Homo sapiens: one gene and its partners. The protein of the gene in region 3 purifies or fractionates together with the protein of the main gene of each other region. This does not show direct contact. Each region holds a gene or a part of one and is shown on either strand. Other genes may lie near its edges. The genes, in order: TUBGCP6, ADGRG5, MZT2B and VIPR2.

Region 1 (3,567 bases), on a different chromosome or scaffold from region 3:
GCATCCAGGGTCCTGAGTGCACTGAGTGGTGAGTGGCCCCAAGTCCTCCCTTCTGCAGTTCCGGGGGGCCTTGCTGGGGCCTCCTTGTGACAGTGCGCCCCTTACTGTCCCAATGTAGACCGGCAGATGTCAGAACGGATGGCCTTGGATGCCCGGAAGCGTGAGCAGTTTCAGAGGCTGAAAGAACAATTTGTGAAGGACCAGGAGGTGGGTAGGACCTGTCCCTGCGGGGTCACGCCTGTCAGTTCTGATTTCACAGGCCAGGCTCTATGTGTTTTATAGCGACGCCAGGCGGCCAGGCAGGAGGAGCTGGATGATGACTTCAGCTACGCCCGTGAACTCCGAGACAGGGAGAGAAGGCTGAAGTCCCTGGAGGAGGAGCTGGAGAGGAAGGCGAGGTAGGGCAGCCCGGGCTCCAGGCCCAGGGGTGCAGTGCGGCAGGGGCCCCATAGCTCTGGCTTAATCTTACTGATGATTTTACTTTTTGTTTTGAAAACCTTCAAACATACATTAAGGTAGAAAGACCAATATGCTGAACCCAGAGTGGCTGTGGGCGTTCTGCCTTATCCAGGCATCCTTAGCTGTTCTGCGCGTTGTCTTGTGGTGGTTTGTATGGATTAGGGTCCAGGCGAGGCCTGCGTACTGTTTGGGGTCCTGTCTCTTTATTTATCTTCTTTCTGAACATCCTTCCTTATTTATTTTTAAGTCTGTTATTGGTCTGACAGAGACAGGGCGTTTTTTTTTTTTTTTTTTTTTTTGGAAACAGAGTCTTGCTCTGTCACCCAGGCTGGAGTGCAGTGGCACAATCTCGGCTCACTGTAACCTCCGCCTCCCAGGTTCAAGCAATTCTCCTGCCTCAGCCTCCTGAGTAGCTGGGGTTACAGGCATCCGCCACCACATCCAGCTAGTTTTTTGTATTTTTAGTACAGACGGGGTTTAACCATGTTGGCCAGGCTGGTCTCAAACTCCTGACCTCAGGTGATCCACCTGCCTCGGCCTCCCAAAGTGCTGGGATTACAGGCGCGAGCCACCGCGCTCGGCTGAGACAGGGCATTTGTCCAGCACAGCATCTGCGTCTGTCTCCCTGTGCTGTTATCAACCTGTCCTGTGCTGTCATCAGGCTGTCCCAGGCTGAGTAGTGCTGGATCCTTCAAGGGGCTGTTTGGGGTTTTGGAGAGAGCCCCTCACGGGAGGGGCTGGCCGCTTCCTGCTCAGCCCCACGCGATGCTGTAGGTCCCAACCTTAGATCTCTTTATGGAGCGAGTGAGGGATGTGTGTGGAGGGGTGCGCGTGCCTGTGTGCACGTGTGTCCGTGTATGCATTTATGCATGAGTACGTGTTCATGCATGTATGTCAGTCGATACTGTCCTGTTAACACATGGAGAAAACCAGGCCTAGACACTACGTCTCTGGCCTGTGGCAGCCAAATTAGAGCTGGCCAGTCCAGGTTTGAGCCCAGTTGCCTGCTGGTGAGAAGCTCAAAATCATGGGGCACGATCGGTGAAGCAGGCTTTGAATTCAGCAAATAAAGCGTTTGTGTTGGTTTTGCTTCATGTGCTTTTTTGCATTAGTTTTCAGTTCTCAGGTTTGTACCTGTAGAAGGGGAAGAGGCCTAACTTCTTAGAGGCCTGGGGCCCTCGGCCTCCTGCTCACCCCTTGCTTCAGGCCACACAGGATCTCATTCTGGTATTTGTCCAGCAGATGTTGCTGAGCCCTGGCTGGACGCTGACTCACCAGGGTCTCCCAGCCTGGCAGGTAGAAGGGCCTGCCTGGTGCTGCCCTGTAGGTGCTGTGAGGGCCCAGAGCTATCAGCCCCTGGTAGGGGGAGACGGGGGCGGGGGCCCACTGGGGCCTCTGTTATGGAGAACCATCCTGGCCTGAGGGGTGCCAGGTAGATGGGGTGGGGTGACTCTTGTGGCCGTGTCCTCTCTGGTGTGTGGCTTCAGGCAGGCACTGGTCGACCACTACAGCAAGCTCTCTGCAGAGGCAGCTCGTCGGGAGCAGAAGGCACTGTGGAGAATCCAGAGGCACCGACTGGAGAGTGCACGGCTTCGTTTTCTCTTAGAAGATGAGAAACACATTCAGGTATGTCTGCGGCTTCAGATGGCAGCTCTTCCCCTGGGCTTTGGGGGTCTGGAAACCCCCTGAGACTGCACACAAACCTACATGCTCTTCTAGGAGAGGGCTGGTGGCTTTCGCGTTTGCGGCAGAGCACTCTCTCTCCCCGTGTGCCACCAAATTGCACAGATACAGGTGGTGAGGAGCTCGTGGTTTTGGAGTACTTTTTGCAGGCCCAGCGTCCCACTGGAGCCCAGCACAAGCCTTGTCTGGTTCAGTGCACATGGCTGCCATGGGCGGTAGGGGCTGTGGCTTTGTGTGGGGTAGGGCTGTGCTTGACTCCGGCTTGGCCAGTCACCCCTCTGGCTTGAATTTCAGGAGATGCTGAAAGCAGTGTCTGAGGCTCACCAGCCCCAGGAGCCGCCAGACGTCCTCTTGAGCGTGCACCCCCAGGTAAGCGGCAGAGTGGAACCCAGGGTGCCCTATGGTTTTCCCATAGCCCTCGGCACCTGGTGTTGGTCATGGCTGCAGAGCTGAACTTGGGGGACAGTTCGAGGGCTGGGGGGTCCTGAGACCAGACTGGGTCTGATGTCACCTGTGTTTCAGGTCACGTCTCCGGGCCCTGAGCACCCAGAGGGAGGCCAAGGCTGTGATTCTGGGTCTGCAGAGCAACACTCGCCTGCCTGGGATGGCTGGAACAGGCCAGGCCTGCTGACCCCACAGCCCCTTAAGCCTCTAGCAGTGGGGGCTGGTGGCAGGGGGCTGCAGCAGGCGGAGGGGGCCAGACCCTTCTCTGACAGCCTCAGCATTGGAGACTTCCTACCTGTGGGCCCAGGGGCTGAGCCGTCCGTGCAGACTGGCATGGTCCCTCTCCTGGAGGTGGCGCTGCAGACCATTAACTTGGACCTGCCCCCCTCAGCTCCTGGGGAGGCACCCGCAGCAGCCAGCACTCAGCCCTCCAGGCCACAGGAGTACGACTTTAGTACTGTCCTGAGGCCAGCTGTGGCCACCTCACCTGCACCAGGGCCCCTGCAGGCTGCAGAGTGCAGCTTGGGCAGCTCAGGGCTACAGCTGTGGGAGGACAGTTGTGGGAAGATGGATGCCTGTGGCTCCGCCTCGCGGGAGACTCTGCTCCCCTCACACCCACCCAGGCGTGCTGCTCTGGAGGAGGGGAGCAGCCAGCCCACAGAGCGGCTCTTTGGGCAGGTGTCAGGGGGTGGTCTTCCCACAGGGGACTACGCTTCTGAAATAGCTCCCACCCGGCCACGGTGGAACACCCACGGGCACGTGTCTGACGCCAGCATCAGGGTCGGGGAGAATGTGTCAGATGTGGCTCCCACCCAGCCACGGTGGAACACCCACGGACACGTATCCAATGCCAGCATCAGCTTAGGGGAGTCTGTGTCAGATGTGGCTCCCACTCGGCCACGGTGGAACATCCATGGACATGTGTCCAACGCCAGCATCAGGGTCGGGGAGAATGTGTCAGATGTGGCTCCCACCAGGCCA
Region 2 (3,567 bases), on a different chromosome or scaffold from region 3:
TCCTCTGTGCTCTGTCAAACATGAAACAGATCATGTGTTTCATCCATCAAAGATAATGTGTTCTAGTTACCTCCAGAAACCAGTTTGCTTGGTGGCCTGTGACCCCAGCTCTCCAGTAGGCTAAAAAAAAAAAAGATTTTGTATATTATTTGGCTTTCCCATTGTTATGATGGGAACAATACTCCCATCTGACTCTCTACTTTCTAGGTGGAAATCGAAATCATCTTAATATGGTTTTTACACAATTAAAAAAACTCCTGTTCAATGTTTCTATTATGACTATATGCATTACATTCCATATTAAATCATGTAGCGGCATTTCGTTTTCTTGTACAACTTGGTTTTCTTGAAATTAATTGCTTCTTTTTATTTTTGCATTTATAAACTTCGGTAAGACATCTCAAAAAACAATTTTTCTAGATGTTCAAACCTATTCGATAGTCTATCTACTCTCCTTTTCCTCTTCCTTATTTTTTTCTTGAAGACCTCCCTCCCAGGGCATTCTTTTCTCCTGCTCCCTCCGGATGGGAAATGCCCTAGTCCTGCTGTTCAGCATCAACCCGGGCCTTCCCTTCACACATTTTCTGGGGAGTAGCTTTACCTCTCCCATGGTAGGATACAGGGTTTCCTGTACCCTGTGTCTTCCTTCATGATATACTTTCTCATTTTGTTGGAGCACATCCTCCAGCAGCTTCTCAAGAAAGGATGTGTGTTTTGAAATTCTCAGTAATCCTTGGTTGACCATTCAAGAGAGGAGCACTAAAAACCTAATTGCTTGGCAGAGCTTGGTGACTGGTGAAATTTCACTGTAAGTTAGGTCTTGGCCATAACATTGAGGAACACAAAAATGGAAGTAGCTATAGGATACTATTCTTGGAATGGTTAGCTCCTCAGAGACTTTTCTCCTGCCTTGGGGCATAACCCTGGTTGCTGCAGTCTTCTGGAATCTGAGTGGGGGAGGATGTGGGGAGGGGATATTGCTTAATTCCCCCTTCTGTTCTGATTATGGTGCATCCTCTCTCCAGAGAGTAAACTTTGTGTGGAGCAGGATTGGGGATGGTAGGATGGTGAGGAAACTCCTGAATACTGGAGGTGGCAGGGGAGATCTGGGGACTGAGTTGGGCATTTTAAAGACTCACAACCAACAAACTCTGTTTTTATTTTTATTTTTTATTTTTTTGAGACAAGGTCTCATTCTGTTGCCCAGGCTGGAGTGCAGTGGTATGATTTTGACTCACTGCAGCCTCCATCTCCTGGGCAGGATCCACCTCACCCACCTGAGTAGCTGGAGACACAAGTGCAGGCCACCATACCCAGCTAATTTTTGTTTTCTTTTTGTAGAATCAGGGTTTTGCCATGTTGCCCAGGCTGGTCTGGAACTCCTGGTCTCAAGCGATCCTCCTGCCTTGGCCTCCCAAAGAGTTGGGATCACAGGCATGAGCCGCCATGCCTGGCCAACAATCGCTGTTTTTAGCCTCTTCCTTCATCCCCTCTTCAGAGGTTACTGATGCCCCCAGTTCTCAAGTGCTTCCAAGGTTGTGAGGCTTCTCCTTGTCTCCTGCCAACACCACACCTCTCCCCACTGCAGGCACTTGGGTTCAACTTTTTTTGGTCTGCTAAACGTCTTACCAGGTGCCACCTACTTGTAGCCTCCAAAATTTAGCTGACATCTCCCATCTCTGCAGTTGTTTTCTTTCCCATTGTTCTGTCTTTGTGCCTGTTTTCTAAGGAGTAGCTTTACCTCTCCCATGGTAGGGTACAGGGTTTCCTGTACCCTGTGTCTTCTTTCATGATTTACTCTCTCATTTTGTTGGAGCACATCCTCCAGCAGCTTCCTGAGAGGCTTTGTGCCTCCTTTCTTCCCCATTGTACTGTTTTTCATGCCTCTTTTCTTTCCCATTGTTCTGTGGCTTTGTGCCTATTTTATTCATTCCCTCTCATTTTAGTGGGGCTTTAAGGGGCAGACATAAATTTGCTCTATTGAAGCAGAAGTTTATTAGTTCATTTTAAAATGGAGGAAAATGAGGGCAGAGGAGAGACAGATCCTACCCAAAGCCGCACGATGAGTTAATGGCAGGGCTGGATGGGGTTTACCTGTTGCTTTCTCCCAAACACCGTCCCCCTGGGTAGAGACTGGGATCCTGGGGAAGCCCCCAGAAAGACTGCTTTTTGGGAAGGGGAGTGTATCAGGCGGAGCTGCTAATGGCAGCCATTACTTGGTGGTCAAGGATTCTGGAGTCTTAGAGACCTGGCTTTAGGCAGGTTTAAGTAAAGCAAGACCCTTTGCCCTTCATCCTCAGCTTCCTCATCTGTGAAATGCAGGAGTGGTGAGTCAAATAAGATGCTGCATGTCCTACTCTTGGGACATGCCAGACACCTAGAAGTTAGAGGTTGCTCTTTTATCATCATGGTGATGGCATGCACCTTTTTCAGGGCCGGAGCCAGTTCTTGGAGGAGACTCTGCACAGGGCATGGATCACTGTGGTGCCCTTTTCCTGTGCCTGTGCCTTCTGACTTTGCAGAATGCAACAACAGGTAAGGGGGCTCTGCTGAACTGGGGGCAGCCCTAGCCCAGTCGTGGGACTGTGATGCAAAAGGGGGAGGCGTCAAACCATGGGAGATTGAAAAGGGCCACTTAGGCTTCCTGGGGGCAGCAGGAGCTGCTTGTGAACTAGACTCTCAGGGTGGGATGGAAAGCCCAGAGGTTGTGGGGCCAGAGGGCAGTTGAGACACAAACTGAGGGGGAGGTGTGTCCCCACAGAGACATGGGAAGAACTCCTGAGCTACATGGAGAATATGCAGGTGTCCAGGGGCCGGAGCTCAGTTTTTTCCTCTCGGTGAGTTGGATGTGCCTCCCACCCCAAGCCTGCACCTTGAATCAGTGGGTCAGGGTTAGTCTAATGTAGACTCTTAACTGTGCATTTCTTCAGCACTTTTATTGAGCACCTACTGCATGCCTGACACTAGGCTCTGGGGATGCAGGATGGGCATGTCACTGCCCTCATGAAGTTTATCATCGAGGAATGGGGGCCCTTAATCATAGATGTCATGACACTAAGTGCAGAATTATGGGTCTCCATGCATTTTCCTGGGAAGGGGGTCTAAGATTCTGGCTGGGCTCTCCAGGGTCTATGACCCAAAGACTGAGCAGCTCTAGGTGAGCGGCCAATGCTGAAGACTGGTCAGGGCTAAGAGTGGCTACTGGGAAGCTGTGAGGGAGCAGTCAGGGAAGGCTTCCTGGAGGAGGTGACAATAAACTGGGACCTGAACAGGAGTTAATCAAGAGGAGGGGATAGATGGGGTAGGGAGGTAACAGTGTGCCAAGGACACTGTGTGTGCAGTGGTCTGGAGGTGCGTGTGACAGAGGTGTGGGTGGGGAGGCCCTGCCCTCCCAGGCTGTCTACAGCCCCCTCTCACCCTTACCCCACTCCGGGCTCTGGCCTCCCTGGCCATCTCTCTGGGCTGCAGTCAACTCCACCAGCTGGAGCAGATGCTACTGAACACCAGCTTCCCAGGCTACAACCTGACCTTGCAGACACCCACCATCCAGTCTCTGGCCTTCAAGCT
Region 3 (3,050 bases):
GGGAAGCCGACTCTGAGTCAGGCCCAAGTCTGCGGCCTGCCATGCTGCGTGCTGTGGGGAGCTGAGAGCGCATGGGCACCTAAGCACCCAGATTAGGCTGCGGCTACAGAAGATCTGACTCTGTCTGGCCTGGCCTGCGGAGGGACTGTGGCCTCAGAGGAGGATGCTGGCCCAGTGTGGGAGCTGCTGCAGGGTGGCGGGGCCCGTCTGCTCATGGAAGACAGAATCCTTGCCCCTTGACCAGTCAGTGGGGACTAGAATTATGGCAGTTTGTACCACAAGAGATGCGTGGTGGCTATTGTCTGCTTTGTGCCTTTTTCACGAGTCACTGCTGGGCTGAGGTGGCCAATCATCACCCACCACGTGTTCCTGACTGCGCTCCTCCTTGGCTCAGGGCAACCCTGACTCCATCTTTGTTGAGTCAAGTGTGACAAGCTGACAGAGTTCCAAGCATGACACCGCTGTAACCCTCACCACCACCAGGCAAGAATGAGCAAAGATCTCATTCTCTGAGGAAGAACTCCCCGGAAACTCAAAAGGAGGGCCGTCCTATCCCTGCAGGGTATGGGGAGAATTTTCTGGTATTAGCATAGAAAGGGAGCTGGAGGTACCTCTGGAAGAGCGGGGGTCCACGGCATCTCAGACACAGGAGTCTCTGCTTGTTCAGGGTGACAGATGGTGAAACAGAAATGACCTAATGGATCTCTAGACACCCGGTTGCATCTTTTCTCCAGGAATCCAGTTTCCCATTGCAGGGTATTTGACTACACTTGATAAGAGGCCAGGGAAGGACCAGGATTGAGGCTGGGTGTTCTGTTGGCTGAACCCTTGTCTGGAGTCACCCTAAAAGTGATGGCAGGGGAGTTCCTGCAAGGGACTGCCCCAAACCTTTCCAGGATGAGAGCCAGTTGGGATTCCAAAGGAAGAAACACTTAATGCCAGGGTGGTCAGTCCAAAGCATTTGTTAGGGAGCTTACATACAGAGGGGGCTGCAGTGTACCCTCACGAGGGACAGCCAGGAAAGAGGTTGTGCCTAGGCACACCGCACTGAGGGGGTGGGGTGTGGAGTTTCTATGAGGGTGCAAGGAATTTGGCTGGGGTGGGACCAGTTTCCACGTGCTTAGCAACATGTCAGATCTTTCAGTGTTCCAGGCAACAACCTAAACGTGTATCAGTGTCTGGTAACATGCAAGCCCCAGCCAGGGTTTGAGCCTGCAGGGGGAACATGTAGCTGATTAGGTCAGAGTAGTCAAGGCACTTCCTCAGTCAGGACAAAGGAAACACTGGGGGGATGAAATGGGGGACCCAACACTGAGTCAGGCAGGGGACACATGCCCTGTTTAGAGCCCACAGGCCAGACCCTGCCAGGCCAGAGCAGGGGAGAGCCCTGGCCAAGGCACTCCACATGGGGGTCTGTGACCCCACGGGCAAGCCTGCTACCCGGGCACGTTTGTACCTTGGAGGGTCCTCTCAGTCTTGCCGATGCTGTCAACACCCTGAGCCCAGGGAAATCCATCCCATTAAAATAAAGGTCTGGCCCAAGTGTGGTTGCAGATTTTTCTTGGCTATCTTAAAGAGTAAAGTAAGCAAATTACAAATCAAAGAAACTCTGAACCAGTGGTCTTCATCCAAGAGAGCCTCTGGTGGTCAGAAGGAAAGTCTCAAGCATTCAGACTGTGGCAGGAACCCTGTCATGGAATCTGGCAGCTAAACCCGAAAGCAAGAGGCTTGACCACTGCAGAACACTCGGGTAGGTAGGAAACAATGAAAGAGCTTCCAAAATCAAAATCAGAAACCCAATTCCAGGACTTGGTGACTGCAGTACTTCCTGCCTGTCACCATCTAGGGCAGCTCAGATGTGCAGTCCAGCATGAACACACCTTGAGGATGAGGCAGCGCATCCCTGCTGCTGCCGCCGCTGATGGCACCATCAGGGCAGACTAGGTTTGCTGACCAGGCTAGGTGTGGACCAGCACACCTACCTTTCCCTAAATGGGCCCGTGGCATGTGTCCTTTCAAAATGTTCCCTTGGCAGTGTGCTCCTTGCATGGCTTTGCTCCTAGGACACATCCAAAAGGGTCCCCTGCACACTGCGAAGGGCTTCTGGGGCGTGACCTGTCTTTAGTGGTTCTGAGTCTCAGGACTTGGGGCTGATGCAGGGCCTCTAGCTGAAGGGACTTTGATGGAAATGTGCAGACACAAATGTTGCCCAAGGACCACGAGTACAGCAGGTGCTGCAGTTACGGGGCACGCCCATTCCTAATCATTGTGCTTTGTGTCTCCTCAGGGAGAAACAAAGGCAGCGCTGCCCTCGGGGGAGCATTGGCCCTGGCGGAACGCAGCAGCCGCGAAGGATCCAGCCAGAGGATGCCACGCCAGCCCAGCGCTACCAGGCTGCCCAAGGGGGGCGGGCCTGGGAAGAGCCCTACACGGGGCAGCACCTAGGATGGGGCAGAGACTTGTTGCATCTTTGTCCCCAGCAAAGGCTACATGTTACCTCCTTCAATTGATAATAAACCTTTCTGAGATGCAGAGGGTCCAGGTCAGATGTTGTCTACCGTTTTTTTTTTTTGTTTTTTTTTTTATATTAAGGCACACTTAGAATGAAGTTTCTGTGCCGGTCCTGGTTGTGCCACAGTGAACTAACCAGGTCCCTTCACCATGGGTCAACTTCCTGAACCTGATTTGGGTTCTGAGAAAAGGCATCTGGATTGCCAGGTCTTTTATAAATAGACGTCAACAAGCTTCACTTGAAGTGAAATGTGGGAGGTTTTTTTGGTTTTTTTGAAATGGAGTCTTGCTCTGTCACCCAAGCTGGAGTGCAGTGGTGCGATCTCGGCTCACTACAAGCTCCGCCTCCTGGGTTCACGCCATTCTCCTGCCTCAGCCTCCCAAGTAGCTGGGCCTACAGGTGCCCATCACCACGCCCGGCTAATTTTGTTGTATTTTTAGTAGAGACGGGGTTTCACTGTGTTAGCTAGGTTGGTCTCGATCTCCCACCTCATGGGAGGTTTTCTACCAAGGCAGTTGACAGTGCTGAGGGACAGGGT
Region 4 (3,567 bases), on a different chromosome or scaffold from region 3:
TCTTCTCTGGTATTTATTTTATTTCTAAACAGCATACTTATGCTCCTGTTTCTTTTCTTTCTTCCTCCCAATTTACATCCCAGTGTCCATTAGATTTCTAACAAGAATAAAGATCTATCTCTCCTGTGCCATTCCCACCACCCAAGTATAATTTATCATCCTGCCAGCCTCCTGATAGACTCACTTCACATTGCTGGTGTACATCATTGCCATCACAGTTGAGCCACATAATATCCAGCATTTCCTTTCTTCATAACTTTATGCTTTTCCTCGTTTTTCTGTTGCTGGGTTTTTCACCTACCTCTCAATAATTAGGCATCAAACCTCAGGCCAGAACACTCTCAAGACACTGCACTGAGGTGGTCTCAGGGTTCCATTTTTTCTCTTGTAGCAGGACGAGCTGCAGACAAAACCCCTCAGACACCGAGATGGTGAAGGGAGTGGCTTTAATCAGCTGGAAGCATTGGCAGACTAGCGTCTTAAAATCCGAGCTTGTCAGGTGCACAATTTTTGTCCCTTTTAAGGGCTCACAACGCTAAGGGTTTCACATGAAAGGGTCATGATTGATTGAGCAAGCCAGGGGGTATGTGACAGGGGCTGCATGCACGGGTGGTCAGAGTGAAACAGAACAGACCGGGAAGTTTCACAGTGTCTTTCTATACAATGTCTGCAATCTATAGATAACATCAGTTGCTAGGTCAGGGGTCAAATTTTAACTACCAGGCTTAGGTCAGGCAGGTCCAGGCCTGGTGTCGGGTCTGGTTCCTAGGCGCTGGGCTACCTGCCTTTAGTTTCGCTTCTGTTTCCTTTTCTGAGTATAAAACAATCTAAAACAATGTGAGAGGGTCTGTCTCTCTTCTCTCACTCCTAGAGCCACTCCTTCTGGATTCCCCCTCCTTGCCAAGTCGGGATCCTTGAGCTGGGGTCTGGCCCCAGGCAGGCATTGTGAGCCTCCTGCTCACACAGTCGGGGTCCTCGGTTGGGGATCTGGCCCCAGGAAGGCGCCATGAGCCTCCTCCTCACGGTCAGGATCCGGTCCCAAGTAGGTCCCGTGAGTCTCCTCCTCACAGTCAGGGTCGGTCCCAGGTAGGCGCCGTGAGCCTCCTCTTCACAGTCGGGGCTCTCAGCCGGGTCCCGTCCCAGGCAGGCGCCATGAGCCTCCTTCTCACAGTCAGGGTCGGTCCCAGGTAGGCGCCGTGAGTCTCCTCCTCACAGTCAGGGTCGGTCCCAGGTAGGCGCCGTGAGCCGCCTCCTCACAGTCGGGGCTCTCGGCCGGGTCCCGTCGGTTCCCTGCAGCGTCCTCCACCCTTGCCGGTGCCGGGGGTACCGATGGCCTGTCTCTCGCTTCTCCCCCTCCTCTGCCTGCCTATTTAACACAGTTGCTTCTGTCTGCAAGGCTGTAGTGACATCTCTTGGTGCTGCCCTTTCAAATTTTTGGCTGTCCTTTGCGTGAGGTTGAGAAGCTGAGAGAGAAACTCCTGTGTTCCCGCCTGGCAGCTGTTGCCAGGAGGTTGCAGCCAGTGCCACGTGTGCGACCGGCACTGTGGCAGCGCTTCCGGCTGCGCCTTCGGCTGCACTTCCGGCTGCTACCTCAGCCTCGGCGCCCTGACGCCCTCGAGTCCGCTTCCTCACATCCTGACAGCGTCTAGCTCTGCTCCCTCACGTGCGGTCCAATAAAGGAACAAATGAAGAGAAGACTTTCCCTGGCCATTGAAGGGATCAGATGATTAGCTCTAGATGTTTAAATCAAATCCTACTGTAATGCAAAGACTGTTTGATGTGGTATGAATTTAGTATCTCTGTTGAAATTTAAAGCAGCAATTAGTATTATACAGTATATAATTATTGCATTATAATTTGTATTATGTATTAGTTATCTTACTATACATTATCTTATTTATTGTTTATTTATTGAGACGAGGTCTCGCTCTGTCGCCCGGGCTGGAGTGCGGTGCCATGATCTTTACTAACTGCAACCTCGACCTCCCAGGCTCAAGTGATCCTCCCACCTCAGCCTCCCTAGTAGCTGGGACTATAGGCATGCTCTGTTACCTCCAGCGAATTTTTAAATATTTTCTGTAGAGATGGGGTCTCGCTATGTTGCCCACGCTGGTCTTGAAGTCTTGGGCTCAAGGGATTATCCCGCCTCAGCCTGCCAAAGTGTTGAGATTACAAACATGAGTCACTACACCCAGCCCATTATTTTAAAATAACAATATTATATAATTATTGCTTTTTTTTTTTGAGACGGAATCTTGCTCTGTCACCCAGGCTGGAATGCAGTGATGCGATCTCGGCTCACTGCAACCTCCACCTTCTGGGTTCAAGCAATTCTCCTCCCTTAGCCTCCTGAGTAGCTGGGATTACAGGTGTGTACCACCACACCCGGCTAATTTTTGTATTTTTAGTAGAGACGGGGTTTCACCATGTTGGCCAGGCTGTTCTCACACTCCTGACCTCAAATGATCCACCAACCTCATCCTCCCAAAGCGCTGGGATTACAGGTGTGAGCCACCACACCCAGCCATTACTATTATCAAGGTAGAAATTTGTCATTTTGTGATAAAAAGCTGAACCTTCAAAATAACCAGACACGAAACTGCCAGAGCTTGCTGTTTTATAGGAGATGGACAGAACTTTGCTGATCACATGCAGAGTCTTCACTTGGAGGCCTAGACATCTTCACTTTCCTCTCCATCTTGTTCACTCTTGGCTAGGAACCCCATCCTGACACCTCTCCACCACCTGCCCTACACACCAGAGTTAGAAGTGCTTGGTTTACGAACTTAGCATTTAAATAACTCTACTACTTAGACTCTAAGCAGCCTTACACGGGGGCTCACGCCTGGAGTTTCTAGTGATGCATTTACATTTGATCACTTGTTTTGAACATTTTAAAAGAAAACCAACATTTTCTTTAAATATGTTAACATTAATGTAATATGAATTTATGTACTTATTCAAGTATTGGTATGTAATTTTATTTTATAATAAATATATTTTCACTTTTATTGAAAGTATTTAGAAACTATTTTCATCTGCAAAACTTAGCTTATGGCCAGCTTTTCAGAGACATTTCTGTATTCTTGAAAGTAAAACACTCCTTTGTTCACACCAAAGCTGTGTGTTCTCTATGGATGTATTCCTGCAATTATTGCACAGGTCTGGGTGGCATGTGCTGAAAGGAAAACTGATTGTTTGTTTGTTTGTTTGTTTGTTTGTTTGTTTTACCGACCAAGGCTAGCACATTGCTTTTCTGATACTGAGGTTTAAGTAAAAGGTAAAATTTTAGAGGTCTCAAATATAGTATAAATACCATGGACAAGTAGGAAAGTCCTGGGTTTAACATGCATTCCATCACTGTTGTGTGATATTGAGAATTCATTAAAAGATTTGAACCTTAGTGCTTTTCATCTGGAAGATAATTAATGCAACATTTTTATATCTAACCTTCACCAGGTGGTTATTAAGACCAAATAGTAGGTCTAAAAATGTTTAAGCTATGCATTATGCAAATTATTTGACAACTCCATGAAGGTAACCTAAGATTTTGTTGCTAATAAGGCA

The links.
Region 1: the proteins of MZT2B (region 3) and TUBGCP6 purify together in Homo sapiens (affinity purification with mass spectrometry; 3 studies listed by BioGRID and IntAct, with this or other methods). This does not show direct contact.
Region 2: the proteins of MZT2B (region 3) and ADGRG5 purify together in Homo sapiens (co-immunoprecipitation; one large-scale study listed by IntAct). This does not show direct contact.
Region 4: the proteins of MZT2B (region 3) and VIPR2 purify together in Homo sapiens (co-immunoprecipitation; one large-scale study listed by IntAct). This does not show direct contact.

The regions. Positions count from the first base shown.
Region 1 is NC_000022.11:50,220,972-50,224,538, reverse strand, and holds part of TUBGCP6 (gamma-tubulin complex component 6), read left to right. Parts: coding exon 1-28; intron 29-118; coding exon 119-207; intron 208-282; coding exon 283-398; intron 399-1,946; coding exon 1,947-2,085; intron 2,086-2,436; coding exon 2,437-2,511; intron 2,512-2,664; coding exon 2,665-3,567. UniProt on the Homo sapiens protein: Component of the gamma-tubulin ring complex (gTuRC) which mediates microtubule nucleation.
Region 2 is NC_000016.10:57,559,623-57,563,189, forward strand, and holds part of ADGRG5 (adhesion G-protein coupled receptor G5 isoform 1 precursor), read left to right. Parts: intron 1-2,433; coding exon of another isoform or gene 2,434-2,471; coding exon 2,472-2,535; intron 2,536-2,761; coding exon 2,762-2,837; intron 2,838-3,468; coding exon 3,469-3,567. UniProt on the Homo sapiens protein: Orphan adhesion G-protein coupled receptor (aGPCR). Ligand binding causes a conformation change that triggers signaling via guanine nucleotide-binding proteins (G proteins) and modulates the activity of downstream effectors, such as adenylate cyclase.
Region 3 is NC_000002.12:130,188,182-130,191,231, forward strand, and holds the end of MZT2B (mitotic-spindle organizing protein 2B), read left to right. Parts: intron 1-325; coding exon of another isoform or gene 326-405; exon of another isoform or gene 406-1,543; intron 1,544-2,287; coding exon 2,288-2,445; coding exon of another isoform or gene 2,446-2,510; 3' UTR 2,511-2,546; downstream 2,547-3,050. UniProt on the Homo sapiens protein: Required for the recruitment and the assembly of the gamma-tubulin ring complex (gTuRC) at the centrosome.
Region 4 is NC_000007.14:159,110,357-159,113,923, reverse strand, and holds part of VIPR2 (vasoactive intestinal polypeptide receptor 2 isoform 1 precursor), read left to right. Parts: intron 1-3,567. UniProt on the Homo sapiens protein: G protein-coupled receptor activated by the neuropeptides vasoactive intestinal peptide (VIP) and pituitary adenylate cyclase-activating polypeptide (ADCYAP1/PACAP).